2 separate regions of the Homo sapiens genome follow, and region 2 is linked to region 1. Evidence: fine-mapped expression QTL. A gene starts in region 1. The other region holds a variant in brackets. All regions are shown on one strand. Distances are from middle to middle. Region 1 holds the start of GPRIN2 (G protein regulated inducer of neurite outgrowth 2). Region 2 overlaps LINC00842 (long intergenic non-protein coding RNA 842).

Evidence for each region. PIP is the estimated chance that this variant, and not a neighbour inherited with it, causes the effect.
Region 2: its variant is the best candidate, but not a certain one, in a credible set for the expression of GPRIN2 in cerebellar hemisphere (GTEx, PIP 0.87).

Annotation. Positions count from the first base shown.
Region 1 is chr10:46,548,839-46,563,893 of GRCh38, forward strand. It overlaps GPRIN2 (G protein regulated inducer of neurite outgrowth 2), which reads right to left and starts at 7,820. Exons shown (of 3, transcript NM_001385282.1): 1 at 7,660-7,820; 2 at 5,747-5,857; 3 at 1-1,904. The coding sequence starts at 1,898. The coding sequence ends at 522. RefSeq lists enhancers at 7,151-7,856, 8,562-9,267.
Region 2 is chr10:46,400,575-46,415,629 of GRCh38, forward strand. The region is part of intron 1 of LINC00842 (long intergenic non-protein coding RNA 842); the gene reads left to right. Among named protein-coding and RNA genes, the nearest start is that of LINC00842, 9.7 kb to the left of the region's middle. The variant G/T (reference allele first, on the strand shown) is at 7,247.

The DNA.
Region 1 (15,055 bases):
GCCAGGATGAAGAGGTGAAGACAGGACAAGCACAGTATGTGGCACACAGGAGGCCTCTGATAACATCAGTCCCCTTCCCTAAAGACCTGGGCAGTCCCTGTCACTGGGGCCTCACATTTCATGTCGAGAATTCACTATTTCTCAGCACTGATTTCAAATAAAGCCACCAAGAGTCTGACGAGGCAACATGGCAGAGTTCTGAGGGTGGAGTGAACAAAAGGTCATTTTTTACAGAAAACTCAGGATCTCCCCTCTGCACAGTGCTAAAGCCCTGTCTCAAAGTTCAGAGCCCGGAAGGTGCAGAGATGTGGCCCTTGGAAATCAAGCCCTTAAGAAAACAGCCCAGCTGTGTAGGGCCGGAAGCCCCAGGCTGCAGTCCTGTGGTCTGGAGGCAGCCAATATTCAGGTGAGAGATGTGCCCAGCTGCCGGTGGGTCCAGGGGGCACGGAGCCCCCACCGTCCCTGGCCCAGGTCTAGGACTAAGTCAGTGGGCCCAGGCCAGCTCCAAGGGCCACAGCTCCTCACTCGGGGGCCGCGCCGGAGCAGCCGCAGCAGCTGGGGCGCCGCAGGGACTGCATGACAGCCCGCAGTGGCCCCCTCCGGCCCTCCACAGACAGGCTGTCCTCGCTGGCGGGCGCCCGCTGCAGCTGCTCAAACTGCATCTCCAGGTGCTTCTGGATGGCCACACCGAGCACCTCCAGGTCCACCGCAGCTCCGTACACCTCCCATGTCATGCCCTCAGCATCCCATCGCACATCCCGCACAGGGGACGGCACCTCCTCCAGGCTGGACCCCAGAGTTACCTCTGGGAACACATGCAGGGCTGCAGGCGCTTCCAGGGACGGACTGGTGGCCACAGCCTTGCAGGCCGCCACTGGGGCCGCCTGCACACCAGCATCCTGGGCTGACAGCGGGGATGCCTCTGCAGGGGCCAAGTCATTGGCTGAGGTCATGGTCCACACATCTTTGGTCCTAGAGCCAGGCTCTGGGACTAACCCAGCGGGACCCCAAAGGTGGGCACAGCAATGGGAATGCCCAGGGAGCCCCCCAGACAACCTACAGTGGATCTTCACCCCATGCTGAGCCTGCAGCCCAGACTCGCTCACTGACGCCACTAGTTTGGGAAAGGCCAGGATCCCTGTGGCAGGTAGGGCATGGCAGCAGCCACCAGCCCTCACCTCCCTCATGCCACAGAGTAGAGCAGCTGGGGGCAGAGCATGGCAGGTGGTGGTAGCCAGCTGTTCAGCAGCTTTGGGCTCAGCCTGGGCACTGCTGCTGTGGGCAGTTGTGTCCCCCAGGTCTAGTGGTGGCACTGACAACTGACTCGCCCCCAGCATCCAGGCTGAGTTAGAAGTCTCATCCTCAGGAGCCAGGTCCCTTTCCAGGCCTGCAGGGGCCTGGCCACCCTGGCCAGAAGTACCACCTGGCTGCAGCTGAGCCCTGTGGACAGGGCTGCTGCCAAGGGCTGAGCAGCTGAGACTGGCCTTCCGAGCACCACTGTGTCCCCGCATCTGGGTGCTACGGACCAGGTCTGAATGGCTCCTCTGCATAGCAGCAGCACTAGGGGCCCGCAGGCGACACAGGTCACTGCCGCCCATGGTGGACACATTGCCCACAGTGCTGCTCCACCAGTGGCCTCCAGCACTGGGTCGCGCCTTGGGGCCAGAGGCCCGTGCTGGCTTCATGCTCTCAGGCGGGTTCCCCTCTTCCTCCGGGGCCTGGGGTCTGGTGCTGGCCTCGCCCAGCTGGGCCTGCCACACGGTGCTGCTGGCAGTCTTGCGGAGCTCTGGCCTCTGTTCCCGGCCTTCACCCAGCAGGCTGGAAGAGCTCTGGGACAGGGGCTGAAGGCGGGGGCTCAGGGGTGCCCAGGGACCCGGCTCGGGGCGGCTGGAGCTCATGGCTGCCTGCAGAAGAGAGAAAGGGAGGGAGTGGAGTTGAGTTGGGTGGCAGCACCTAAGCCGATTCTACTATGAACTCCCACAGTGCTAGGTTCACCAGGGAGCCACCTTCAGTCCCAGCCTGCCTGACTGGTCAGAACCATATGCAAGGCAGTGAGTGACAAGACACCAGACACTTCAAATCAAGGTCATCTCACATTAGACACAAGGATGACACTGCAAATTATCTCATCATCAGTCTCAAGCAGTTAGAATCTGCCCTAGGGTGGGGTCCTGGAGGCCGCCACTCTATCAGCTCTCAACTCTTTACTGGCTGGTTTGTGTGGGAGGGGAAGGGAGAGAGCCAAATCTGCTGGGGCTTTGGGGGTGAAACTGCAGCCCTAGGGGGTGGGGCTGTGGGATAACAGCTCTTGGTCAACCAGCACGGAAGCACTATGGCCTCTTAACGGGCACAGCTGGACAGGCCAATACTGGGCTACTTCCTCCTGGGACTGGCAGTATCCAACTCACTGTGGACAGGGTCTCCTTGGTACAGAGTGGGAGCTCAGAGAAAGTTCACAGGACGAGGGAGCAATGACCAGAGGACACTGAGAATCACCCTGGGCTTCCACAACCACCCCCATCCTCCTTGGCCTAGCCTTGCTGAGCTGGCATGTCTCTGGGGTTCCCTGACTCCTACCTCTAGCTCCAGGGGCAAGGAGAGGCCCCATGCATCAGCTTTTTCCATGAGGGACTCATTCAGCATCTGGTCATTGATTCCACAGCATCTCCTGAGCCCCTACTGCGTGCCCAGCTGTAGGGCTAGGGAACATGGGATTCATTCAGACCTTTCTGTACCCCTGGGGACGGTGCAGCAGTGAGATAAGATGCCCACCCAGTACCATCAATCAGACCTATCCTGCCTGACATTTAATCCCCTCTTGCCCAGTGTACCTGCATCCTCATTGTCCCCCACCCTCCGTACCATCGCTGTCACTTCCCCCAGCCATAAAGACCACCCTGGACCTGGCAGCTGCAGCCTAGAGCCAGTTCTGGCCCTTTCCACTTCTGCATCTCTTCCTGGGGCCCCTTTCCCGACCCTCCAGCCAGGCAGCCTTCATCCCTGACTGAGCATTGGGCCTGCATGGAACAGTTTGGCCAACTGTCAGCCTCCCCACAGGCCTGAAGTTGGCAAAGCCTGGCCTGTGGCCTGCTCCCCTCTGGCTGTCCAACACCCAGCACTGACCTGATGTGTCGTCGGCACTCAGAGGATTATCTGCTGTGTGCCTGACCAAGAGAACAAGCAAATACAAGAACACACCCACAGAGGAGGGCACTGAGTGCCAAAAATGGGGTCTGAGGGAGGGCACCACCAAGGCAGGAGAGCTCACGGAGGGTGAGAGATGAGAAAAGGCTTCCTGGAGGACCAGCCACGTAAGTCAGGCCTGGAGTGAGAGAAGCAAGAAGGTGTTCAGGTGGAGAGCGGAGTGGGCAGGAGGAAAGAGGCCATGTGTCCAGAGCATATGAGGGGAGCAGTGGGGTCAAAGTGTCTGGGCCACCTCGGCCCTGGCCACAGCAGTGAATTAGGGAGATCACTCTGGGACTCCTTGCCAGGCAGGAGAGGTGGGAGAAACAGGGTGGGGACAGGAGGCAGCAGCTGCATTTGGGCAATCCCAGCCCTGCCCTCCCAGCCTAGGCTGATAAAGACTTCCAGGCAACAACCTCCCCGACCAGGTGAGCAAGGCTACCCGAGAGGAAATTCGGGAAGGGCTGTGGGACTCGGTTTCTGTGTAATTACAAATGTCCTGGCAGCCCAGCACTCAGGAGATGGCTGGTGGCTGCTGAGCCACAGTGAGGATGATACTGGTGCTGTAGTCCCTGAGACTCCAGCTCTGCACAACTTCCTGCGATGATGGAAAGATTCTACCCTGTGCTGTCCAATAGGTAGGCACCAATGGCATGTGGGTACCAAGCACTCAGCAGGGGGCTACTGCAACTGAGACACTGAATGTTTAAGTTTTATTTGAATCTAACTGGCCACATGAGGCTAATGGCTACCGTACAGGACTGTGCAGCTCTGAACACAGCCCCGGCCTGGTAAGGATGTCCCATCCCAGCTGCTTCACGGGGCTGAAGCCAGACTTGTCCCTGGGAGGATCAGGAAGAGGAGGAGTAGCCAAGAGAGAAATCTGACCCAGACCCTGCCCTCAATGAGCTCTAAGATGGACATACAAACAAAGGAGGGCAATAAAGCCCGTAACAGCGATGATAATAACAGCTGCCAGGGCCTGATCACTCGCCAAGGGCCAGACACGTGCCACATCCTTTGCATACATTGTCTCATATAACTGTGCAAGCAACCTCTTGAGACAGTCATTATCTCCATTCTACAGACAGGAGAATTCCATAAGCTCAGAGAGGCTCAGTGACCCCCAAGGGCACACACCTGTGGGGCAGCTGAGCTCCTCTCCCCTTCGAGCACTGAGCAGGCCTATGCCTCGCAGCTCTCACCCTTTTTACTGATCTGGCCTGGCCCTGCCAATCGTGCTCATGACATGCCATGGAACAAGTCACTGAGTGGATCTCCACCTGCCCAACATGCTTCTTAGCAGCTCCTGAGGCTGCAAGAATGAGGAGGGCAGGAGGTGTTCCTCCTGACTGGGACAGCTGTGGTCACTGCCAGCCCCTGGCAGGGAGACAACCACTCAGTTGCAGGTCCAAGACCCCAGGGAGGCCCCATCTGGACATCCACACAGCCTCTGGCCAAACCCCACCACCCTCCCAGGGAGGGGGGCCATAAACAGCCAGGCCAGCAGCCTCTGGCCCCTGAGGAGACAGGTGGAATGAGGTCCTCAGACCCCCACCAAGACCCACTGAGAAGCCATGAGCAATGAGCATCCCACTGTGCCTGTCTCACCAGAGGGCTGCCCAGCACCCAGGGCTAGTCATCACCCAGAGACCCCCGTGTGGGCTATGTATCTATTGGTTCCCTTCCCCATTCCCCCTCCACAAGTGGCAGGTGACAAAACTGAGGCCTGGAGCAGCTCAGAAATGTCAAAGAACACACAGCTGAAAGTGGCTAATTCAGAACCCCAATGGATTGGCCTGGCTAACTACAACCTGGCCTTCCCAGCTCAGAAGGAAGGAAGGGCTCTGAGGGGAGTACTGGGGGAAAGAGGCTTCCACACTGCCTGTCACAGTGCTGTGGACTGGGCCAGAGGAGGGGCCTCCCAGGGAGCCAGGGGTGAGGAGGAAGGGGCAGGGCTCTGCTTCCAATGGGGGCTCTTCCCCTTCCTGTGCATGTACTCACAGGTGGACCCCTAACTTCTTTGAGCCTCAGTTTCTTCAATCTGCAAAACAGAAATAAATCCCCACCCTGCAGGGTTGTTGTGAAGACCAAATGTGACAGCATGTGCACTGTCTGCAATAGTGTTTGTTAACAATAATCTTCTCTTTCCCCTCCCATCAAGAGCAGCTTAAGTTCATGGTATAACAAGTATTAGTACTGGGGGCCAGAGAGGCCCTTTTCAGAAGCCATCAAGACACCCCAAAGGTTAGCCTCCTCTAGCTTCCCATCCTCGCTACCTTCATCCCATCCTAGGACCAGGTCACCATCAGTGTCCCCAGTCTCCCTATCACCAAACTAGGTTTCCCAGAGCCTATTTTAAATGTTAACCTAGGAGGCTACGCATGCATACAAGTCTAGAGTCTGCACTTTAAATGCCCAGAATGGCACACCCACCCTGCCTTTATAACAACACAGAAGGTTCTGGTTTTGCCCTAAAGGGACCCTCGGAAGATCTTTTAGGACAAGATAAAGAACAGGCATACAGAAGTATCCAAGACCTCTAGTATTCTTTGAACGATACCTTAATGTTCTCTCTCCTGCCCCATTTGATGCCGAAGTTGCTATGGTTGTGGCCGATGTCCCGTGGCCAATGCCAGGCTGTCCTGCTGCCTCAGGTTCCACCTGTCAGCAACTGGAAGATCAACCACCTATGTAGCAATCAACCAATGTCATTTTGAGTAAAAGCCCCCAGTTCTCAGACACTTCCAGACTAGCCCAAACATAGAGACCTTTGAGTCAACGTACAGAGTCCAGCTCCCGCCATGCTGCCACAGCAGAGGAGCCCAGGCCTTTGGGATATGCCCAGGGGACTACCAAGACCACCACAAGTGGGCTCCATCTCAGACAACACTGTGGCATCCATCTAAGTCCCCTCTTGGTTTTGTTCGTTCGTTTGTTTGTGAGACAGAGTCTCGCTCTGTCTCCCAGGCTCGAGTACAATGGCTCAGTCTCGGCTCACTGCAACCTCTGCCTCCTGGGTTCACGTGATTCTCTTGTCTTAGTCTCCCGGCAGCTGGGATTACAGGCGTGCACCTCGGCGCCCAGCTAATTTTTGTATTTTTAGTAGAGATGGGGTTTTCGCCATGTTGGCCAGGCTGGTCTCGAACTCCTGACCTTAGGTGATCCACCTGCCTCGGCCTCCCAAAGTGCTGGGATTACAGGCATGAGCCACAGCGCCTGGCCCAAGTCCCCTCTAGTTAAGTGGCAAGCATTTGGATGATGACTTATGTGTCCGGCAAAACCAAAACAGGAAAAGCAAACCTATATGATCAGGCAGGAAAACTGGTTCTATGTTAAAATATGGACCTTACCTCTCAAGGACCAGGCAGGAATGCACACAGCACAAACCCCCATTGCACAGTGGGGATACAGCACCCTCCAGGAGGTGGTTTAATCCACCCCAGAGTGAACGGGGCCTGATAGGAACACTCAGGGCCAACTCTGGGCAAAGCAGCAGGCAGCATTCCTAAAGGGAGGGTTTGGAGGAGACAAAACCTGCCCTTCACAATGAACGTGCCTTAAGGGCTACATGCCCCGGGTCACAAGCTGTGCCAGGAAAGGGTTCTGGGGTAACTGTGGGGTCAGTGGCCCCATGGATGAGGCTCTGCTCACCAGGAAGAGGCCTAGGCGCCCAACAGCCCCTGAGCTTCCTCCCCTGGGGAGGATTTGCCCACAATCCCTGGGGGGCACCTAGGTGGAGAGGGTGCCCCGGCCTAGAAGCAGCCTAGGCGGCCGGTGTGTCCCTATCTGCACGCTCACAAGCACTCATGCCCCAGCCTGGGACACACAGGCCCGTATGCAGTAACAGCGTCTACCCAGCTGCACTCTGCACGCCAAGCACAGGCCGCCCCTGCTGCGGGGCCAAAGGCCTGAAAGCACCGCACCACGCAGCCTCGCCCAGAATAGCTCCCCTCCCGCCCCTCCTGCACAAAGCCCACCCGGACTTAGGGAGAAGGGGGCTCAATACGGGCCCGAAACGAGGCTACAGACCTTCTCAGGAGCAAAGGCAGCGACTGCAGGCAAATGGGGCTGTGGGCCGGGGTAATGATGCGGGACAGGAGAAGCCAAAGGGCAGCAAGGCTGGGGGCGGGGTAGGCGGCGCAGTAGGCTGAGGGAGGGGAAAAGGAAGAAGGGGAGAGGGAGGAGCGATGGCAGCAGGGGTGGAGGCCGAAGGAGACAGGGTCCCGGACAGACTTGTGAAAATGGGAGGATGGGCAGAGGAGACGTAGAAGAGGGGACAGGACAGGACAATGAGAGGCGGAGCGCGGGGAGTGCGATGCGGCCACCGGGGGCTCTGGGCGCTGGGCAGGGGCCAGGATGCCGGGGGTCTGAGCGCAGGCAGCGGGAAGGAGTGGGTTCTGAGGCTCAGCAAGGGGGAGGTGCCGCCCACCACGCCCCCCGCCCCAACGGGAGCGCGCGGAGCCAGCCTCTCACCCTCTCGCCCGCCGGGGCCGCGCAGGCGGGGGAAGCGCTGCTCCTGCGGCCGCCACAGGTGCCAGGTGCCGCGGCCCAAGATGGAGCCAGAGCCGACCTGGCCTGGGCGCGAGACGCCGCCCGCCGCCGTCGGCCCGGCCCGCGGAGCAAGCGCCGGGTACAGGGAGGGGCCAGCGGGGCAGCTGGCACCGGGGCGGCGGGAGGGGCGGCGGGCGGAGACCTCGCTCACCTGGGCCCGTGCCACTCTGGAGCCTGCCACCGCCCCGCCGCGGCCCGGGATCTGCGTCCGCGCGCCCCCACCCCTCCTTCCCGACCCCTCCTCAGGCCGGGTCCCCACTGTCCTCGGTCTTTTCGGCCCCGCCCGCACCACGACCGCCTGTTCTCCAGGCTGCCCAGCGAACCCCCAAGACTCCCACTTCCCCGACGCAACCCCACCGTCCCGGGTGTATAGGCGCAGCTCCCCACGATTCTCCGGCCCCAGACCCAGCCCCTCAAGTCCACCTCCTCGTAGCCCCACCCCCTCGCTCCAGTGCCCCTCGCTCCAGTTCCCCCTCCGCACCACGCCCCGCATTGAGGTCTCCGCGCCGGCGGCTACCCCTTTCCTCTCGCCTTCTCCATCCTAGCTCCGCCTCTCACAATTCTCTGGCTCCAGATCCCGCCCACGAGACCCCGTTTCCTATAGGGCCCTTTCGTCTGGGATACCAGGCCTGGTCTCCACTAGCCTCGGACTTTCCAGCCCCAGGTCCCAAATCCTGGACCCACCGTCCCATCCTCTGAGCTCCACTCTCATGGACCCCAAACCTCACTCCAGTCCTTTGAACTCCATGATCCTGGCCTGGCCTGGCCCCCGGAGCCCTCCATTGCCCCTCAAGAGCCCAGCCTGGTAGACTCCTTCCCTAGGGTTGCATCTCCAGCCCCGCCCCTGAAGACTGGTAATCTACCACCCCTTTCCCTGCCCACGTGCCCCTACCCAGCCCGACTTGAGGCCTTCAGTCTCCCAGCCGCGGACCCCAACAGCGGGCGAGGGCAGTGACCGTGCGGGGATGAGCCACCTCCACTGGAGCCCGCCTTCTTCTCCGCAATTCCCCGCAGCACCACAGCGCCTTCCCGGTCCCGTGACGCCGGGGGCCAGCCCAGGCCCTGGGATCGCCAGGTTCCACACTATGAGGCTGAGGACCTGGGCCTACGGTTCCCTCAATATCCCCCAGTTTCCACAACCGCTGGCCAGCTTCAGGGCGCAGGACAGGCAGCCCCGGCCTCCCGCCACTCGCAATAGATTCCTGCTGTCCACCCAGGGCCACGTGGTATGAGGCACCTGTACTATCTCTGGGCCCCAGTATCACATAATTGGGTCCCAATGTTGGCACTTCTCCGTTGTCCCCTGTGCCGGGACCCCCAACTTGTTGGCCCAGCCCTGTGCTGAGAGGCCTGCGTTCCTCCCTTCCAGTGCCCAGGAGCCAACAGTATCTCTAATTCTCCCCGTTTGGGTAGCAAAGGACCTCAGTCTGCCCAGAGAGACTCAGACTGCCCCAGGTAGCCCTCTCCAGCGAGGTCTGAGAGCAGCTCTCAGATTCTGGCAGATGGCTGCCTTTGGCCAAATGCCCACAGGGGTGTCGACGTCAGACCCCAGGCTTGGGCCTCACCATCACACACTGCCTGGTAGGGGGATCCTGCTTAAAGGAGGCAAATAGGGGATTTGTTTGCCGAGGCCACTACCCACTTCTGCCCCTGTCCAGGAATTAGGACCTCTGCTTCCACATCTTAGGCATCTTACTCATATTCCCTCTTTAGTGAAGTCAGCTGAGCCCCAAGAAGGGATGGACTGCTTGTGGTTACACTGAGAGTTGGTGCCAGATCCAGGCCCCAAACCTGGGGCTCTCAGCTCCCAGGACATCTCAAGAACCAAGAACCTCACTGTGTGTTTCAAGGAAGCCTTCTTGGGGCTGGGTGTCAGGAGATGTCTGCCATGCAATCTACCTGTGAACACAGCTGGCTGGCCCTCACCCCAGGGCATCACTCCTTGTCCAACTGGCCCCCTTCTTCCATTCATGCCCTGGCAAGGAGGCTCCCCTGGCTGTGGCAGCTGTCCAGGGAGAACCCAGCATGGGGAGTCACACTTAAATTCCAATCTCAACTCCCCCACATATTCACTGGCTGTGCAACCCCACACCCAAGCAAAACTGTTCATCTCTCTGGGCATCAGTTTCCTCATCTGCAGAGTGGTAGTAATTATACCTACCTAACAGGGCTGGGGGAAGAGGGTGTTTGTGAACGTGTCCCGTGGAGTGTTATCGCTGCTATCAGTCACTTGATCAAATATTTACTGAGCTCCTCCTGGGTCAGGTCCTGGAGGTACAAGCTGCACTGCATGGGGGAAGGAAGGGATGGATATGTGTAGATTGCTTTGGTAGAGAGCAGCTCAGGCCTGAGGACCACATGGGCCAACTACCATTTGCTGAGACTCTGAACCCTGACAGAAGAGGAATGAGTGTGGGGTGCACTCAGGGGTCCAGCGGGGGCACACTGGGATGTTTGAGGCACCACGTGGACAGGTGGGTTGCACATTACAGGATTGGAGGGGTTTTTCTGTTTGTTTTTGTTCCTTGAGATGGAATTTCACTCTTGTCACCCAGGCTAGAGTGCAATAGCGTGATCTCGACTCACTGCAACCTCCGCCTCCCGGGTTCAAGAGATTCTTCCGCCTCAGCCTCTTGAATAGCTGGGATTACAGGTGCCCATCACCATGCCCAGCTAATTTTTGTATTTTTGCTAGAGGTGGGGTTTCACCATGTTGGCCAGGTCTCGAACTCCTGATCTCAGGTGATCCGCCCCCTCTGCCTCCCAAGATGCTGGGACTACAGGCGTGAACCACCATGCCCAGCCAAGGACCGGAGTTTTTCAGAAGTCTGGGTGTCATGGACATGGGGTGGTTGCTGAAGTCACAGGGGTGGATAAGGTCTTCAGGGAAAGAGTAGAGTGAGGAGAGGGCTTAGGACCCATTTGTGAGTCACCAGGTGACAAAGGATGGAGGAGCACCCAGAAAAGATAGTGGGAAACTGGGACATCATGGTGACACAGGGCACTTGGAGCAAGCTCCTTCAGTGAGGTGGCAGAGGCAGAAGCCACTGGCGTGGGTTGGGGGATGAGCTGGAGGAGAGAACCAGAGATGGTGCATGTGCAGATGCCTCTTTTAAACACAGCCATAAAGGGGAGAAGAAAGGTGTCACTTGGGAAGGAATGTAGGGTCAAGAGAGGCATTTTTTTAATGCTATTTTTTTTTGTTTGCTTGCTTGTTTTATTATCTGCATCCTGTAGTAGGTTTCTTTTATTTCAAACAACAGAAAGCAAGTCTGGTTAAGTTAAGCAAAAAGGGATGGCCAGGCGCAGTGGCTCACACCTGTAATCCCAGCACTTTGGGAGGCCAAGGCAGGTGGATCACTTGAGACCAGGAGTTCAAGACCAGCCTGGCCAACATGGTGAAACCCCATCTCTACTAAAAATACAAAAAATGAGCCGGGTATGGTGGCGTCTGCCTGTAATCTCAGCTACTTGAGAGGCTAAGACAAGAGAATCAGGACACTTGAACTTGGGAGGCGGAGGTTGCAGTGAGTCAAGATCGCACCGCCATTGCACTCCAGTCTAGACAACAGAGCAAGACTCTATCTCAAAAAAAAAAAAAAAAAAATTAGCTGGGCAGGGTGGCATGTTTCTGTAGTCCCCCTGTTCCCAAGGCTGAGGCAGGAGGATAGCTTGTAGCCGAGAGGTGGCGGTTGCAGTGAGCAGAAATTGTGCCACTGCACTACAGCTTAGCAACAGAGCGGGAGTCTGTCTCAAAAAAAAAAAAAAAAAAAAAAAAAAAAAGTTAAGCAAAAGGGGATATGTCAAAAGATCGCAGGGATCTCCAGATGCTAATGCTTTCAGCCATGTTCTTCAAGGCAGGAGCCAGGTGACTCCAGATCCCAACAGGAGGAACCACTTGCTCCCCAGTGCCACCTCCACAGAAAGGATTCCTGTCCATGGTCCTTGGTGTGTCTCTCAGCTCAAGATTCAAAATCCCAGTGGAGTGGCAGTTTGTTTGGCCGAGCTATGGCCACATGCCCTCTGCCCTTGGATCGACATACCTGGAGGAATACCTGGCCCAATGCCTCTCTAGGATCACCCACTGCCCCACCGAGACTGCTCACAAGACAGTTTTCCCCAGCAGGGAGGTTGAAGCCTGAGTGACCAGAAACAAGTATCCACTGCACATTGTAACGAACTGAGCACATTTGACTGCTAGGGAGAAGTACCCATTGAGAAGGAGTGGACAGGAGATACAGGAGCCAGAATTGCTACTGGCAATAAGGTCCTCAATGGGCTGAGATTCAGGAGTTCAATAGGAGGAAAGAGGTGACTTCTTTATGTAATAGCAGAGCAAGAAGAAATGATGGGGGTAGTACTGAGGTACCGTAGTCTCTCTCCTCTTGGGAAAGAAAGTTGCTGGCAACCTTAAATCTACATCCTCACATCTCTGGATCTAAACAACCCACAAATCAAGTCTTACTGCCCCTACTTGACAATCCTGGACCAGAGAGAGAGCTCTTCAATTGACCAGCCTGTGTCACTGCTCTTCCCAAAATGGTGGGGCCCTGCAGTAGGGCTGACAGTGGGTCACAGAGACTAGTGAAGAGTGGTTCCCCAAAGGAAAGGGCAAGACACTGTTGCCAGACTAAGGGAACCTGATACTGAGCTGTCCCAAAGCACAAATTACCGCTGGGGACAGCCTCTGTGCAAGCTTTGAGGAAATGCTAAGTTGGGATGTATCAATGCCTAAGGAAGAGAGAGCTTTGATTCAGTTAAACAGCATCTGCTTTTCTAGCAAAATATCTCTAGGGTACAAGAGACCCCTCTAGCCAAAAGAGCCATAAATGAAAAGGCTGTCTTTTTGTCTGACAAAAAGACACTGACTCCCTGGGACTTAGCATATAATAGATGTTTGCTGGCTGGCTGGCTGGCTGGATGAATGAATGAATGAATGGAAGGCAGTTGATTCAGAAATGCCTATTACTACCTCAATTTAGTTCCACAGACATTTTCCTGAGTCCCTAATAATAATTATCAGCTGCAAGCTGACAATATAGGCTAAATCAGAGGTGCCTTGGCCCCAAAGCCTACATGATGGGGGATTCAGGGGACCTGAGACAGATGCCCAAAGGACAATTAGGTCACAAGGATTGAAGGGAATAGAAGGGGCTGGAGTGCTCAGAGGAGAGGCATTGTAGTAGACATCTGTTGCTTTTTCAGCTCCCCACAATCCAGCCCCCATTTCATTTGGGGGATCATCCCGAGACAGAGACTGCTAATTGTCCCCCAATACTTATTGTCCCCTTCTATAGTAATAGAATTCCTCTAACTGAGTACATAACTGCCCAGAATAATGACCACATTTCCCAGGCATCGTGCACCCAACATGCTGTAGATTAGGTTCTCAGCAGTGAGATGTTAGCAGAAGTAATTTTTGCAATTTCTCGGTCATGCACTTCAGAAGAAATGTGCCTCGCCCCTTTCCCTCTCCCCTGGTAGGAATGAAGTCATGGTGTGAAGCCAGTTTATATCAATCAGATGAAGCTAAAACCCTAAGGATGTCAGAGTGACAAAAGAGAAGGAGCCTGTGTCCCAACACACTGTGGTTGCCTATCAGCCCTGGACTAGCTCTAACTAGGTTTTCCATGAAAGAGAAATTAACCTCCAGTCTATTTCAGTCACTATTTGGGGTGAGTGCTCTCTTGCAGAAGGAAAGCCTGTATACTAATTATTAGTGCTGTATACTAATTATTAGTAAAGGCTGTATACTAATTATTACCAAGAAGGGCTGTGTTGCTGGTAACAAAACTGAAAACATATTTTAAATGCTATACATAAATATGATGATCTGGAAACCCTGTTTATGCCATGCCATAGCAGTCGATCAACTGATTCCTGCAATACCTTGCAAAGTCAGCTCTTGCTCTAAAGGAAACAGTTGGAAATTTCAGAATGCAGGTGTTTGCTGGATGCTTCTTGCCACTCTCAACAGAGTCCTACATGACCCAGAAGAACGTGGACAGAGCTAGCCCGAGGAAGGCAGATACTGAAGAGAATACAGCAGTGCTGAAAGAAGCTCCCTTTGCCTATGGGCTATAACCTCAGTTTAAAAAGTTTTCAGACCTAAAAAAAAAAACTATTGCTTGTTAAAAACTCCATATTTGATAGCTTGATTCTTATATCTTGAAAGATTTTTAAAGTAGAGTGTAAATATAACTGATGTTATGAAATTCTGTTTCATGTTCTGTAGAGCAGTTATATATCATAATGTAGGCAGAAATCAGCCATCATATCATATCATATCATATCATATCATATCATATCATATCACATCATAATGTAGGCAGAAATCCGCCATCATATAATTGTGAGCAGAAATCAGCCATCATATAATTGTGAGCAGAAAAATACCTAATTGGATTCTGTAAATGGGTATATTTTGAATTATGCTGTACAGTGCTTGCCCAAAAAAATACTGTGCCTGAAAATGGCATCAATTTATTAATAAAAAATATGATTTAAGTGATTTTCTAACAACATTTCAAAGGCACCTTTATGGTTCTCAAAGTGTTGCCATATAATAATATTCCTTTAGAATAAAATTATATTTATTTAAAAAAATAAAGAGAAAAATCTATTGCTTCTGTACCACAAACTGAGGCAGATATAGAATAATTTTCTGAAGAAGCAGGATTAGCAGGAGACGAGACTATGGACCCTAGTCTTTCTCAAACACTTGATTACGTTTCTCAACCTGACAATGACAGCCGCTCGGCCACAAAGACCAGATCAAGGAAGCTGCCTTCCAGTCCAAGTTGAGTGTTTTCGCTGGTCTCAGGTTGAGAGGGAGGTGAATAGATATAACATACAGGCTGATAAATAAAAGGCCACCATTTTTAGGCTTAAATACTGCTAATCTAAAGGAGGTTGAGCATCACTAAACCAAAAACCCAGAAATCCAAAATGCTCTAAAATCCAAAACTTCTTGAGCACACATGATGCTCATTGGAGCATTTCAGATTTTGGATTTTCAGATTAGGGATGTTCAGCCAGGATAATGCAAATATTCCAAAATCTGAAATATGAAACACTCTGGCCCCGAGCATTTCAGATAAGGGATACCCAACCTGTACTTGCCCCAGAGGATAACTAGCCACAAATAGGCAGAAAGCCAACTGAGATTTTAAGGGGCATGTGTTACCAAAGAACCATGAGTCTGGCTGGTACAAGTCTGCATTTTTGACTCCTTAAATCAACCGACCCCTACCCACCAAACCTGCACCTGCAAAAAGTGGGCTGCAAAAGCTATGCAGCCCAGGCCCAGTGTGGTGGC
Region 2 (15,055 bases), 150 kb before region 1:
AGTCCTCTCCAAACTCTCTCACGATTGTTAAGTTTCCTGTATATGCTTCTAGAAATTCTCTAGGAATACGCAAAAATATATGTACTTTCCCTACTTCTCTAGCTTTTGTCTAATGCTAGTCTTCTTTCTATTTTTAATTATATGTATTTAATATATCTTTAGGAAAAATTAATACTTTTTAACAGCAGTGTAAGATTTCATTGTGAATGTACCATAATTTATTTAACCAATCTCTACTCATTTAATCTGTTTTTGGTTGTTTAGGCTGGTTTCGGTAGCTTGTTATTGGAAGTTATTGCAATAAACATTCTTATATTACTTTGTATCATCATAGGATAGACTCCTAAAATATTGTGTTTAGATCAAAGGGCATGTGGAATTGTACTTAAGATAGATTTTGTCAAGAAGTCCCCATTCTCATCAGTACAGAAGGAAAATACCAATTTCCTAAACCTCTTACTAAGACAGTACATCTTCAAAATTTGATCCTCACTCATCTGGTGGACAAAGTATAGTAATTCAGTGTTTTAGTTTGACTTCCCATGATGACAAGTGAAGCTTTAAACATGATGCTTTTTATATATTTAAAGGCCTTTTGTGTCATTTTCCTGTGAACTGTTGGCTCAGGTCCATCCTTCAGTGGAGTTTAGTGAATCTGCCTCATTTCCCTAATCAATTCTGTCTCTTACCACTGGAAAGGAATACCACAGTTGTTTACCCATTCGTTGACGGACATTTGGATTGTTTCTACTTTTCGGGTGTTATGAATAATGCTGCTTTGAAAACACTTGTACAAGATATTGTGTGGATATAGGTTTTCAGTTCTCTTGGGTATGTATCTAGGAGTGGAATTCCTTGGTCATATGATAATACTACACCCAACTTTTTGAGGAACTACCAAACTGTTTTCCAAAGTGACAGCACCATCTTATGTTCACACCAGCAATGAACGGGGTTTTCAATTTCTCTGCATCTTCACCAACACTTCTTATTGCCTGTCTTTTTCTATGAAAGCCATCCTAATGGGTGTGTAGTTGTATCTTATTGCGGTTCTATTTGCACTTTCCTAATGACTAATAATGTCAAGCATCTTTTCAGGTGCTTTTTGATCATGAGTATATCTTCTTTGGACAAATATTTATTCAAATCATTTGCCCATGTTTTAATTAGGTTATTGTCTTTTATTGCTGAATTGTTAGAGTTCTTCATATATTCTGGATACAAGTGGCTTATCAAATTTTATATATATATATATATATATATGTATATATATATGATTTGCAAATACTTCTTCCCATTCTGTGGGTTGCTTTTTGACTTTCTTGATGGTGTCCTTTGAAGCACAAAAGCTGTCAATTTTGATAATGCCCCACTTATTTTTTTTTGTTTGGTCACTTCTGCTTTTGGTATTATATCTAATAATCCTTTTACCAATCCAAGGTCATGAACATTTGCCTCTATGGTTTTATAGTTTTAGCTCTTACATTTAGAACTTTGGTCCATTTTGAGTTAAGTTTTGTACATGATGTAAGGTAAGTGTCCAGCTTCATTCCTTCACATGTGGAAATCCGGTTGTCCCAGCATCATTTGTTAAGGCTTTTTTTTAATCCTCTTGAATTGTCTTGACACCTTTGTCAAAAATCAGTTAACCATAAATGTGAAGGTTTAATATTGGATTTTCAATTCTATTACATTTCTAGTATTGGGCTATCTTGATTACTAGATGTTGGTAGTAAGTTTGGTTTTCTTTGGGGTTTGGGGGGGTTGTTTTGTTTCATTTTGTTTTTGAGATAGGGTCTTGTTCTGTTGCCCAGGCTGGAGTGCAGTGCCTTGATCATAGGTCACTGCATCATAGACCTCTTGGGCTCAAGTGATCCTCCCACCTCGGCCTCCCAAGTTGCTGGGACTACAGGCACACACCACCACACCCAGCTAATCTTTTTTTTATTTTTTGTAGAGATGGGGTCTCATTATGTTGCCCAGGTTAATCTCAAACTCTGGGCTCAAGCAATCCTCCCAACTTAGCCTCCCAAAGTGCTGGCATTACAGGTGTGAGCCACTGCACCCAACCTGTATTAAGTTTTTAAATCAGGAAGTGTAGTCCTCTCTCTTTCAAGATCATGTTGGCTATTCTGGGTCTCTTGCATCTGCATGTGAACTTCTGAGAAAAAGGCACATAATCTTTCAATCAAGATTGCATTGAATCTGTAGACCAATTTGGGAAACATTGACATCTTAACAATATTAAGTCTTCCAAATCCATGAACATAGGATGTTTTTTCATTTATTTAGGTCTTCTTTAATTTCCTTCAGTGGTGTTTTATTGTTTTCAGTACGTACAAGTCTTAGACTTATTTGTTGAATTTATTCATAAGCCTTTTATTTTGTCTGATGCCATTGTAAATGGAATTCTGTTCTTAATCTTATATTCAGATTATTCATTGCTAGTGTGTAGAAATACAATTGTTTTTCATATTGTTCTTGTATCTGCAATCTTGCTGAACTCATTTATTAGTCGTAATAGTTATTTTGTGAATTCCTTAGATTATGTCATCTGTAAATATAGTTTACATCTTTCTTTTCAATTTGGATGCTATTTTTTAAATTTACATACTTATTTGCATAATTGCCCTAGCTCAGATCTCTAATACAATGTTGAATAGAAGTGGTGAGCATGGACTTCCTTTCCTTCTTACTGGTCTTAGAAGGAAAGTATCCACTCTTTCACCCTTTGGGATGATGTCAGTTGTGGTTTTTCATAGATGTTCTTTATTAGATTTCATAAATTCTCCTCTATTTCTAGTTTTATGAGTGTTTTATCATGAAAGGATATTGATTTTGTCAAATGTTTTTTCTGCATCTATTGAGATTAGGTGGATTTTATCCTTCATTTTATTAATGTGGTGTATTAATTAGATTTATTTTATTATGTTAAACCAACTTTGCATTCCTGAAATAAATTTCACTTGATTGTGATACATAATCATTTTTATATGTTTCTAGGTTTAGTGTGCTAGTATTTTGTTGATAATTTTTGTATTAATATTCATGAAAGATATTGCTGTGTTCTCTTAGAATGTCTTTTGTTTTGGTATCATGAGAATAATGACATCATAGAATGAGTTGAAGTTTGTTTCTTCTATTTTTGGAAAAGATTGTGAAGAATTAACAATAATCTTTTTTAAATGTTTGGGAAAACTAATCAGCGAAACCATTTGGTACTGAGCTTTTTTGTGCATGGTGAGTTTCTTAATTACTAATTTAATCCCTTTACTTACTAAGGTCTATTGAAATTTTCTATTTGTTCTTGATTCAGTTTTTGTAGTTCCTGTCTTTCTAGGAATTTTTCCATTTCACCTAAGTTAAAATTTTGCTGTCTTACAATTGTTTATAGTATTCCTTTATAATCCTTTTATTTCTATGAGGTGGTAGTGGTGTGCCCTATTTCATTCTCTAAACATTATTAATTTAATAATTTAATTCCCTATACATTAATAATTTAATAATTTAATGTATAGGGAATGAAATAGGGCACATAACTTTTTTCTTCTCAGTCAAGCTAAAGGTTTACCAATTTTATTGCTCTTTTCAGTGAAGCAATTACTCTTGTTTTTTCCCTTAGTGTTTTTTCTATTCCCTGTTTTATTTATTTCCACTACAATCTTTATTATTTTCTTCTTTCTGCTTGCTTTGGGCTTAGTTTGCGCTTCCTTTTCTACTTTCTTAAGGTGGAAGTCTGGGTTATGGAGATCTTTCTTCTTTTTAATATAGGCATTTACAGCTATAAAAGTCTCCCTAAGTATTGCTTTGACTGCACCCCATACACTTTGATATGTTGTGATTTTATTTTCATTCATTTCAAATAATTTTCTAATTTTCATTGTGATTTCTTCTTTGACCCATTGATTATTTTGGAGTGTGTCATTTAATTTCTACATATTTGTGGATGTCCGAAATTTCTTTCTGTTTTTGGTTTTGAATTTCACTCTGCTATTGTTAGAGAACATATTCTATATGATTTCAATTATTTTAAATTTACTGCATTTTGTTTTATGGATGAATATACATGTATGTGTTTTCTATTGCTGCCATAACAAATTACCACAAATTTGCACCTAACACAAATTTATTATCTTGTGGTTCTGAAGATCAGAAGTCTGACATGTCTTATTGGGCTAAAAATAGGAATCTGTGTGGTTGTATTCCTTTGTGGAAATTCTCGGAGAGTTCCCTTGTTCATTCGAGTTGTTGGCAGAATTCAGTTCCTGCAAGTTGTAGGACTGAGATTCCCACTTCCTTGCTGGCTGTCAGCTGAACTGTTCCCAGCTTCTAGAAGCTACCCACATTCCCTTATTAATAGTCCCCTTCCTCCATCCTCAAAGGCAGCAATGGTGGATCAAGTCCATCAGTTTAGTAGTCACTTAAACCTTTCTCACACCTCAATTGTCTCCTCCTCCTTCCATTTCATCTCCCTACCATGGTTAGGAAAGTGTCTCCACTTTTAAGAACTCATGTATTTTGATTGGGCCCACCCAAACAATCCAGGGTAATCTCCGCATCTCAAGGTTTATACCCTTAATCATATCTGCAAAGCCCCTTTTGTCATGTAATGTAACGTGGTTCCAGGGATTAGGGCATGGATATCTTTGGGGGCCACTATTCTTCTCATGACAAGATTTATTCTTGAGAACATTCCATATACACATATAAAGAATGTCTATTCTGTTGATGGTGGTGGAGTGTTCTGTGGGTAACTACCAGCTCTAGTGGGTTTACTGTTTTTTTCAGATCTTCTATATCCTTGTGGATCTTCTGCCTAGTTGTTCTATCCGTTGTTGAAAGTGGAGTAATGATGTCTCCAACTATAATTGTTGAATTTTCTATTTCTCACTTCAGTTTTTGCTTCATGTATTTGGATCTCTGCTATTAAGTGCATATATATTCTTAATTGCCATGTCTTCTTAATAGATTGAAACTTTTACAATTATAAAATGTTTTTCTTTGTCTCTTGTAATAATTTTTGTCTTAAGAGTCTATTTGGTCTACTGTTAGTATAGCTAGCCACTCCAGCTCCCCTTTGGTTACTACTTTCATGGATTATCTTTTTCCATCCTATTACTTTCAACCTATTTGTGTCTTTGAATGTAAAGTATGTCTCTTATAGATAACAGTTGATTCATTTTTTAAAATCACAACCTCTGCATTTTGATTGGTATGTTTACTCTATTTACATTTAATATGATTTACTGAAAAGATAGGCTCTACACCTTCCATTTTGCTATTTTTATATGTCCTACATCTTTTTTGTTTTTCTTTTCCCTCATTACTGTCTTCTTTTGAATTCAATTGATATTTTCTAGCATATCATTTTAATTCTTTTGTTTGTTTTACCATATATTTTTAGTTATTTTCTTATTCTTGCCCTGGGGATTATAACATTTTATCATAAAACAATCTAATCCATATCAATCCAACTTAATTTCAACAATATATTTAAAGATTGCTTCAATATAGGTCCATTTCCTGCCCCCTTCCTTTGTGTTAATATTATCGTACAAATTACATCTTTATACATTATAAGCCCAACAACCCAGTTTTATAATTACTCATTTATGTAGCTATTTTTAAATCAGATAGGATAAGAAAAGAATTACAATTAAAAATACATTATACTGTCTTTTTAATTATGTAATTACCCTGCAGTGCTCTTTATTTCTTTGTGTGGATGAAGTTACCATCTAGTGTCCTTTCATTTCAGCCTGAGAGACTCCTTTTAGTATTTCTTGTAGGGAAGATCTACTCATGATGAACTCTCTCATTTTTCATTTATCTGGGCATTTCTTCTTTTTTTTCAAAGATACCTTTGCTAGATATAGAATTCTTGGTTGACAGTCATTTTCTTACAATACTTTTAATATGTTATCCCATTGCCTTCTTGCCTGAATGGTTTTGATAAAAAGTCAGTTGTTAATCTTATTGAGGAATTTGAAGCTAGAGTGTATATGCTGAGTTATTTTTCTTTTGTAGCTTTCGAGATTCTCTTTTTGTCATTGGCTTTTGATAGTTTGACTCTGATGTATCTAGGTATGGATTTCTTTGTTTTTATACCACTTGTAGTTCGTTGAATTTCTTGAGCATGTAAATTAATGTTCTTCATCAAATTTGGGAAGTTTATGGCAATTATTTCTTCAAATATTCTTTCTGCCCCTTTATCTCCTCTTCTTTTGGGATTCTCATTATATACATATTGGTATGCTCTCTGAGGCTCTGTTCATTTTTCTTCATTCTTTTGACTTTCTGTTCCCTGGATTGTATAATCTCAATTGACCCTTATTCAACTTACTGAATCTTTTTTCTGCCTGCTCAAATTGGCTGTTAAGCCCCTCTGGTTAATAATTTTTTATTTCAGTTGCACTTTCAACCCAGAATTTTATTTTTTTCCCTTTTTTATATAATTTTCTATCTCTTTATTGATATGCTGTATTTGGTAAGACATCATTTTCATGCTTTTTAAAATTCTTTAAACATGCTTTCCTTTAGTTGTTTAAACATGTTTTTAAGACTTGTTCTAAAATCTTTGATAGTAAGTCCAATGTCTGGGCTTCCTCAAGAAAAAGTTTCTAATGGCAGCTTTTTCCCTGTGAATAGGTCACACATTTTGTTTCTTTGCATTTCTCATATTTTTTTCTTAAAAACTGAATGTTTTAAATAAAATAATGTGGTGTCTCCAAAAATCAGACCTCACCCCTCTTCACAATTTGTTGTTGCTTCTGTTTGTTGTTGTTGCCGATGCTGCTGTTTCTCTGTTTAGTGAATTTCCTGGACTAAGTTTTAATGTATACTTTTTGTCATGTGTAGCCACCGAAGTCTTTCCTCAGTTTAGTTGTCCATTAATTTTTGGACAGAGATTTCTTTAAATTCCTTGCACAACTAAATCTACCTACCTTTGCTGGGAAGCTTTGTTTGTGTTGAGCCATGCCTTCGATGCTTCAGCAAGCAGCTGACAACTCTGCCTCAGAGTTTACTTCCTGCTTGCACAGAGCCTCAAAGCCAAACAAAAGTTAAGCTCTAGTTAGATCTGTCTTGGACATGTGTACAACCCTGCACGTGCACATGGCCTTCTAGGTTCTTAAGAATATGTCAGAGCTTTTCCAAAGCCTCTATGAATACCTCATTCCCCAGTTTTTCCTTGTAACTGTTTTGGTCAGCCTCTTATTAGCCCCAACTGGTACTGCCATCTCAGGCA[G/T]TTGCAATGTCAAACAATTTTTGCTGATTGTTTTTGACAGATTCCCTCAGGATAGGGCTGTTCACACAGACTAAGCTCCAAACCATGTTAAGCAAAGACAATCCCTGAGAATGTGCCTTTTCCAGGGAGCTGTCAGACAGATCAAATAGTAACAACTTTCTGAGGATGGGATTTTTGGAGAGCTCTAAACCTATTCTGTCCTCCCCAGTGGCTACCAGGCTGCTGGTTTTCACAGCTGTCATGGTTGTGAGAATGTTAATTGTGTGTGTGTGTGTGTGTGTGTGTGTGTGTGTGTGTAAGACAGAGGTTGTCTCTGTGTTGTCCAGACTGGTCTCAAACTCATGGACTTAAGCAATCCTCCCATTTCAGCCTCCCAAAGTGCTAGGATTATAGGAGTGAGCCACCATGCCTAGCTGAGAACATTTATGTTCAAGTCTATCATAGAGCTTGGAAAAGAAGACTACGAATAAGGCAAGTTAAAACACCACAAAATTTGCTATTCTTACTGAGATTCAGCTGTGTTTCTTGAATAAATCTAACTTGGATTGCTGAAAGCCTTTGGTTAATTTCCAGGACTCTGAAAATGTTAATTTTGACATTTTTGCCAGTGCTCTCATTGTTGTTAAGGAAGGATTTTCAGAAGTCCTTATTCTGACATTCTGCAAGTGTTTCTCTTGGTTTGAGTTTTCATGTGATTGTTTGGGGTAGTTGTTTTTATTTTTGTTGTTGTCTTGATTGGTTTTTGGAGAGATGGTTTTCTACTGGATACTCCTAGGATTCTTTTCTTTGAAGGCAAACATTCATTTTGTTAGGATCTGTCATCTCAGCATTGACTTCTCTAAATCAATTTACCCTTCGGTCAGAAAATTCAAGTCTTCCTTTATTTCAGGAAAGTTGTTCTGAATATTGAGTCTAAGTTTTTTTCTATTCCATAGTTCAGGTTTCCTAACCAGGGGACAGAATGTCCTCCCCTGCACTGAATGGCCTCTGCCTTTGTCTACTGAAGACTGCCTGAGTATCACTTGCAATTTAAAACAGGGCCTGTCTGTAGAGCCTTCTCTGTACCCAGGACAGTTTAGAGGCGTGTCTGTGTTTCCACACCAATAGTAATTATAGTAATAATGATTACTACAAGGTGAGCATCTAATGCTTTGAAATCTGATATCATTTAATGACCCCAGTTACCCTGTGAGGTGGGTATTATCTTCATTTGCAGATGAAGATACTGCAGCTTAGTCAGCAGACTAAGTCACCTAAATGCTCTGTCAGAAGCAGAATTTGTACTCAGGAATGGCCAACTGCAAAGTCCATGTGCTTGAACAGTATGGCATACTGATACATGCACCTGCCATGACCAGAACACAATACAGTGATCTGGCAGCACTTCGTGGCTCACCATCTCTGCTATACTGATAACAACTTGAGGGCTGGACCTACTTATCTTATTCAACAAGGACCCTCTCAGAGGTTAGGGTTGCCCAGTGCAAAGATAGCAAGTCATGTGACACATGGGCCACCTCACCCCTCCTGCAGCCATTGATAACTTTCTTCTTTGAACATGGCATTCTTTCTCTCTAAGCCCAGTTAAGAATTCAGAATCCTTCTAGGCCCAGTTTTTAAAGCAGCCACCACCAATCTATTGGTGCTGACATGAATTCAAAAGATACTTTCTATCCCTTATCTAAATAGTTCATAAGATGATGAGGCTGAACTATGGAACAAATGTAGTCCGTCAGAGATTTCTAGAAAAAAAAACCAACTCTCAATAGTCCTAGAAGTTTGGAAATGAGTATTAATCCCAGGATAATCCAGACACATCTTGTCTTATGGCCTGATGCCAAGTGATGTGGCCCTTATCTAATAGCGCATTTGCATTTTAAATGAGTAAAGCTGGTTAAACCTCTTTTTCCAATTTCAGCTATTATTTTATCTACAAGGGCCTCATAGACATTCACTCCACCCAACAACCACAGAATATACATTCTTCCTATCTGTACACAGAACATATTCTCAGATCAACCATACGCTGAGTCATAAAGCAAGTCTCAATAAATTTTAAAAAATTGAAATTATACCAAACACACTCTTGGACCACAGTGCGATAAAAATAGAAACTAATATCAAGAAGATCTCTCAAAACTACACAAATACATGGATATTAAACAACTTTTTCCTGATTAACTCCTAGGTGAAAATCAAAATTAAGGCAGAAATAAAAAAATCTTTGAAAGTAATGAAAATGGAGATACAACTTAACAAAGTCTCTGGGATACAGCCAAAGCAGTGTTAAGAGGAAAGTTTATAACGTTAAATGCCTTCACCAAGAAGTTAAAACAATCTCAAATTAACAGTCTAACTTTGCACCTAGAAGAACTAGAGAAAAAGAGCAAACCAACCCCAAAGCTAGCAGAAGAAAATAAATAACTAAAATTAAAGAAGAACTTAATGAAATTGAGATGCAAAAATCCATACAAAAGATAAATGAAACCAAAAGTTGATTTTCAAAAAAATAAACAAGACTGAGAGACCACTAGCTAGATTAACAAAGAAAAAAGAATTTCCAAATAAGTACTGTCAGAAATGACAAAGATATTACAATTCATCTTCATTTGCAGATGAAGATACTGCAGCTTTGTCAGCAGACTAAGTCACCTAAATGCTCTGCCAGAAGCAGAATTTGTACTCAGGAATGTCCAACTGCAAAGTCCATGTGCTTGAACAGTATGGCGTACTGATACATGCAGAAATACAAAAGATCCTCAGAAAATACTGTGAGTAATTCTATGCACACAAATTAGAAAATCTAGAGGAAATGGATAAATTCCTGGGAACATACAATCTCCCAAGATTGAATCAGGAAGAGACTGATACCCTGACTAGACCAATATCAAGCTCTGAAATTAAACGAATAATAAAAAACCTACCAACGACAACAACAAAAAGCCCTGGACTAGATGGATTCACAGCTAAATTCTATCAGACATACAAAGAACTGGTACCAATCCTACTGATTAAACCTCTTTAGGTTCTGCTTTTTGTATTGTTAAAATCTTCATTTTTGGTTTTCTAACAGTCTCTGATTCAAACATTCGTTACCAATAAACAATCCAGGTAGCCTCACCCTGAGTGGCAGCCTGGCTGGGTGAGTTCTAAAAATGCCCAAGACCTCCAAGACTAGGTGAGATCTGAAGTAATGAAATGCCTCCATTCACTAAAGGCCTGAAATTGTCCTGACTGCCCCAGTCCCACGGACCAAGAAGAGCCTTTCAAGCTGTGATCCCAATACTTGTGGCTGCTGTGAGAATAAGGAAAGCAGCCTAGGCCTCCAGTGGAAGGATCAGATGTTTGCCCTTCATACCTCAGAGAGCCTTCATCCAAGTAAGATGGGTGGTGAGGAGCTGTGGATGACAGCATGAAGGATGAGGACTGATGCAGCAGCCATAATTAGATTATAGGTTTCCATGGGATGTGCCATGACTGCTTACAAATGGGGCCCAGCCATGGAATTGAGTTATCAACTAAGCTGATTCCTGAGGCACAGATCATCCTGTCCTCCACAACATGATTAAAGACTACATGATGCTCAGGAAGACCTCTGCAGCTGTGTGCTTGGAAGAGTGTGTTTTTCCTGCTAAAGCATAAGAAAAAAGAGACCAGCAATTATCTTAGGCCTTGCAGCATCCTTTCTGGTCCCACAAGTTTGAGAAGGCAGGTGTGTGTGTGTGTGTGCATTTGTGTTTGTGTGTGTGCGCACGTCCACATGCATGCATGATCCTACAATGGAAGTGAGTACGCAAAAGTTGATTGCCTATATACCCTCCCCACAACCAGGTGTATAAGAGTATTCTTTGAGAATGAGAAAGCAGGAAGGAGCACATCCCACACCTTAGCATTCATGTAGTCAATTAGGAACTCCTGAGCTCCCATGACATGCTAGACCCTGGGCTCAGCACTGGATCTCAGACATGTCCCAAACTGGGCGATGGAAGTGGTGGGAAGCAACCACTCATGGACAGCTTCCCGTGTGCCAGGAGTGTGCCAGCATTGACATTATGCCGTCTCTCACTCCTGCCCTCCATCACATTAGTGATTCTGCCATGAGTGACTCGTTCCTTTGGGTTCCTGTTAAGTTCCTGTGGAGGGGTCTAGCCACAGCAGGGGAAAGAGCACCGAGGGAGCTTTTAGGAAACTCTGCTCCAGGTCAGCTGTGTGATGCTGAAAAAATGGCTCACCCTCTCTGGACCTGTTTCCTCTTTTGCACAATAAGAGGGTGGTGTTCTCCAAGGTCTCCTTGAAAATGCGACTTATCCTTGGTCATCACTTTGCAGAGGGCAGGTCCTGTCCCCAAGCCCACCAGAGTGGAGCTGGGAAAAGTTCCATGGTGAAGAAAAGGCAGGGGACACAACTCTGAGAGTCATTCCTTTGAAGATTGAGCCCAGAGGGCTCAGTTTCTGGATTGCATGGGGCACTTTGTCTCTCTCTGCTGGAGCCACGCACCCCTGGTGCAGTAGTTTCTGCCCTGCCCAGACTCTGGTCCCAGAAGGTTGACATAATGAGGAGGGAATGAGCTTGCCAGCTCTGCCATGACCAGCAGGCTGCCTTGGGCAAGTGCTTCACTTCCCTGAGCCTCACTTCCTCTGCCTCATCCCTTCTCAGAGACCACTCCTCATTTACCATCCTAAAGTCTGACCCGTCCTGACAACCATTATTCTCTCTCCATCCCCTGGTTTTTCTCTTTAGGACAGTTACTGCATTCTCTATCTCTTGTTGTTTCTTAGGTGGAGGAGGTACCTGCCTCCTCCCTACCTAGAACGTGAGCCTAGTAAAGGGATGGGCCTCACCTGTTTCAGGTTTGACCTCCAATGCCCGTCACGTAGAAGCTCAACACCATTTCCAATGCCAGAAGTGACAGGACAACAGCAACAATAGCAATATTTCTGTACCACTCCCCTCACTTTCCAAAGAGAAGTAATTCCCAGCTTGGACCTTCCCTTGCTGGGAGGGGTGCCCAGGTGTGGCCTCTCTGTGACCTTGGACCCTGGCTCCGGCATATGCCAGCCTGGCCTTTCCCCAGGGTAGGGAGCTGGCACCCTGGGCATTCCCCAGCCAGCATCCAGCCTTCTTGGGCAGGGCCTTTCCACACCATTCCTCCCAAATCCTCACTGGCCCACCCTGGAACAAATGCAGGCGGAAGCTCGCATCCCCACCTCTGCTGTTTCTGCTGGGTCCCCAAAGAGCTTTCTTTAGGGAAAAAGAAAGCAGGCCAGTGCCTGCTCCTTTTAGACCCCACAGTGGGGCATGGGGTGGGCCTTGGTTGGCCTTAATTTTCCATTCACCTGAGGAGTGGCTCAATCTCACTCACTCCCATTGCAGGTGGATGTCAGCCAAACTGGATGCATAAGGTTTTTGTGATTTAGGAGTTGCAACAGGGGAGATAAAATGCCTAGGAATGTCTTCAGTTGGAAAAAAGGGGCATGATCCTCACATTCTGTAACCTGAGCACTTTATCTCCTCTCTCCCCTTCCTTCACTGATACAAGAAAGGAGACTCCAGCACTAGTTTCCTCAGTCCTTCTGCAGGGCGGGGCTTCTCACGGCCTCAAAGTCATGGAGAAGAGTGTGCACAGGACACCTCACTTTAAGCAAAGCCCATAGACCGTATTTGAGAAAAGGAGTTAAATAAAGAGGCAGCCACCAACAAACAAGAGCCCTGTGGTCACTCAGGTCCCATAGACTCTAGAGGTCAAAGGGCCTCCGAGCATTTGAGAATCAGAGAGGGCAAGTAACTTGGCTGATATCACATAGCACGAAGGTGGCAGAGCCAGGATTCTACCTGCTGGCCTCCCAGATGTCTTTCCTGTTGGACCCTGCTTGCTGGCCACTCCTGGTGGGGGTCACTCCACCATTAGTGTGTTCGTCAAACTGACAGTTGTGGTCCAGATCCCTTGCCTCTGGTGTGCCCAGCACCTTAGCTGGCACCTCCCTCAGCAAACCCAGCCTTCGCCATCCTCTCAAGCATACTTCCCAGGGCTGTTTTGTCCATTACGGTCCCAGAATATAAGGCCTTTGGGTTTTTTCAGGGCCTGTGAAAAGGTTTGAAACATGAAAAACATACTGGCAGTTCCAAAATTCTCAAATAAAACTGTAGAAATGCCTTAGGAATTAAATATGTAATAAGATGTGAACACTTCATTACACACCTACAATTAGTCACATGCCTACGATATGTGAATAATGTCAGGTCAGCTAGTGAACTGTTATATAGTAATTGCGCATCACTTATATAGATATACACAAAGTGCACTTACTGACTTGGATGTGTGTGTTCATTGTTTGAAGTGGCGTGGATGGAGGCTCCAAAAGATAAAAGAATGTAGGGGAGGTGACTCTTCAAATGGCCCTCACCCACCCCTTACCCTCAGCTCACCCACCATGAAGCTTCCCCTTCCAAGGAGGACACACCTCCTTTCCTAGAACATTCTTCAGTGCCACAAGCTGCTCAGTCAGCCCTGATTCTGGAGTCTCCAGTGAGCGAGGCCTGGGGTGGCCCCAGCGGGATGAGCCACACTCCCCACAGCACTCAGCCTGGATGTGGCACTGGCTGCACATAGCAAGAGGCAGCTATTGGACACCTGCTCGCCACAAGTTCTGTCTTATCCTCCCAGCAACACCGAGTGAGGGAGGGAGTGTTAACCCACCATTCACCAGGTTTACCAGAGACCAAGCCCAGGCTCTCCCCACTGCACACTTTTAAAAGGGTCCTTTCAGCTTCCCATTAAAGTGGTTTGTTCCTTTGTTCCTCCTCTCCTGTTCTTCCTAAGACATCATCACTGAAATTTAAGCTTATAAATTTAAAATGGAGTAAATCTATAAGGGAAAAGCATTAAAAAAAGAGAGAAAGATGGCTTACTAATGGATGAGAGTCCAACACATTTCTGGAAGACAGGGTTCATGAGAGGCCTAGCACTGTGGCTCCCACCTGTAATCCCAGCACTTTCGGAGGCTGAGGCAGGAGGATCGCTTGAGGACAGGAATTCAAGCCTGCAGTGAGTTACCGTCACACCACCCTACTCCAGCCTAGGCAACAAAGCGAGACCCCATCTCTTAGAAAAGAAAAAAGAAGATTCACAAGAGGGTGTGGCAATATTAGACAGGCTAAGCCCCCAGGTGTACCCAGTGTAACCACAGGGGCCCTTCGGTGGAAGGGAGAAGCAGAAGAGGTCAGAGTGAAGCCACACCTGCTGTGACAATGGAGGGAGAAAGTGGCTGGCCAAGGAACTCCATCAGCTTCTAGAAGCTGGAAAAGGCAAGGAAACAGTCTCCACCCGGAGCCTTATGGGAACACAGCCGCCTCATGGGAACACAGCTGCCCTGTGACACTGATTTTAGCCCCGTGAGGCCCATGCTGGACTTCTGGCCTCCAGAACTGTAAGATTTGTGGTGCTCTAAGCAAATCATAAATTTGTGGAAATTTGTTACAGCAGCAACAGAAAAGTAGCACAGGCAGCCTACGTGCTAATTCTCATCTTACCTGAGGTGGGGTGTACAATACACCCTGCGTTAGTTGGAAAGCTGAAACAATTCTCTAATGCTAATACTGAAATTGTCAGGTCGGTGTAACTGTGACAGTCCGGAAGCAATGGAGGCTTCAGTGAGCAGGACTAGCTGCCTTTCTCACCACCACAGCTTGATCTCTCTCACAACTTCCTCTCCACCTCCACTGACCTCTGGGTTGGTTTTCTCCTGCACGATCTTTCCACGTGTCAGGGGCCTGGAGGCACCCTACAAGAGCTGATTTTACATTTCCTTC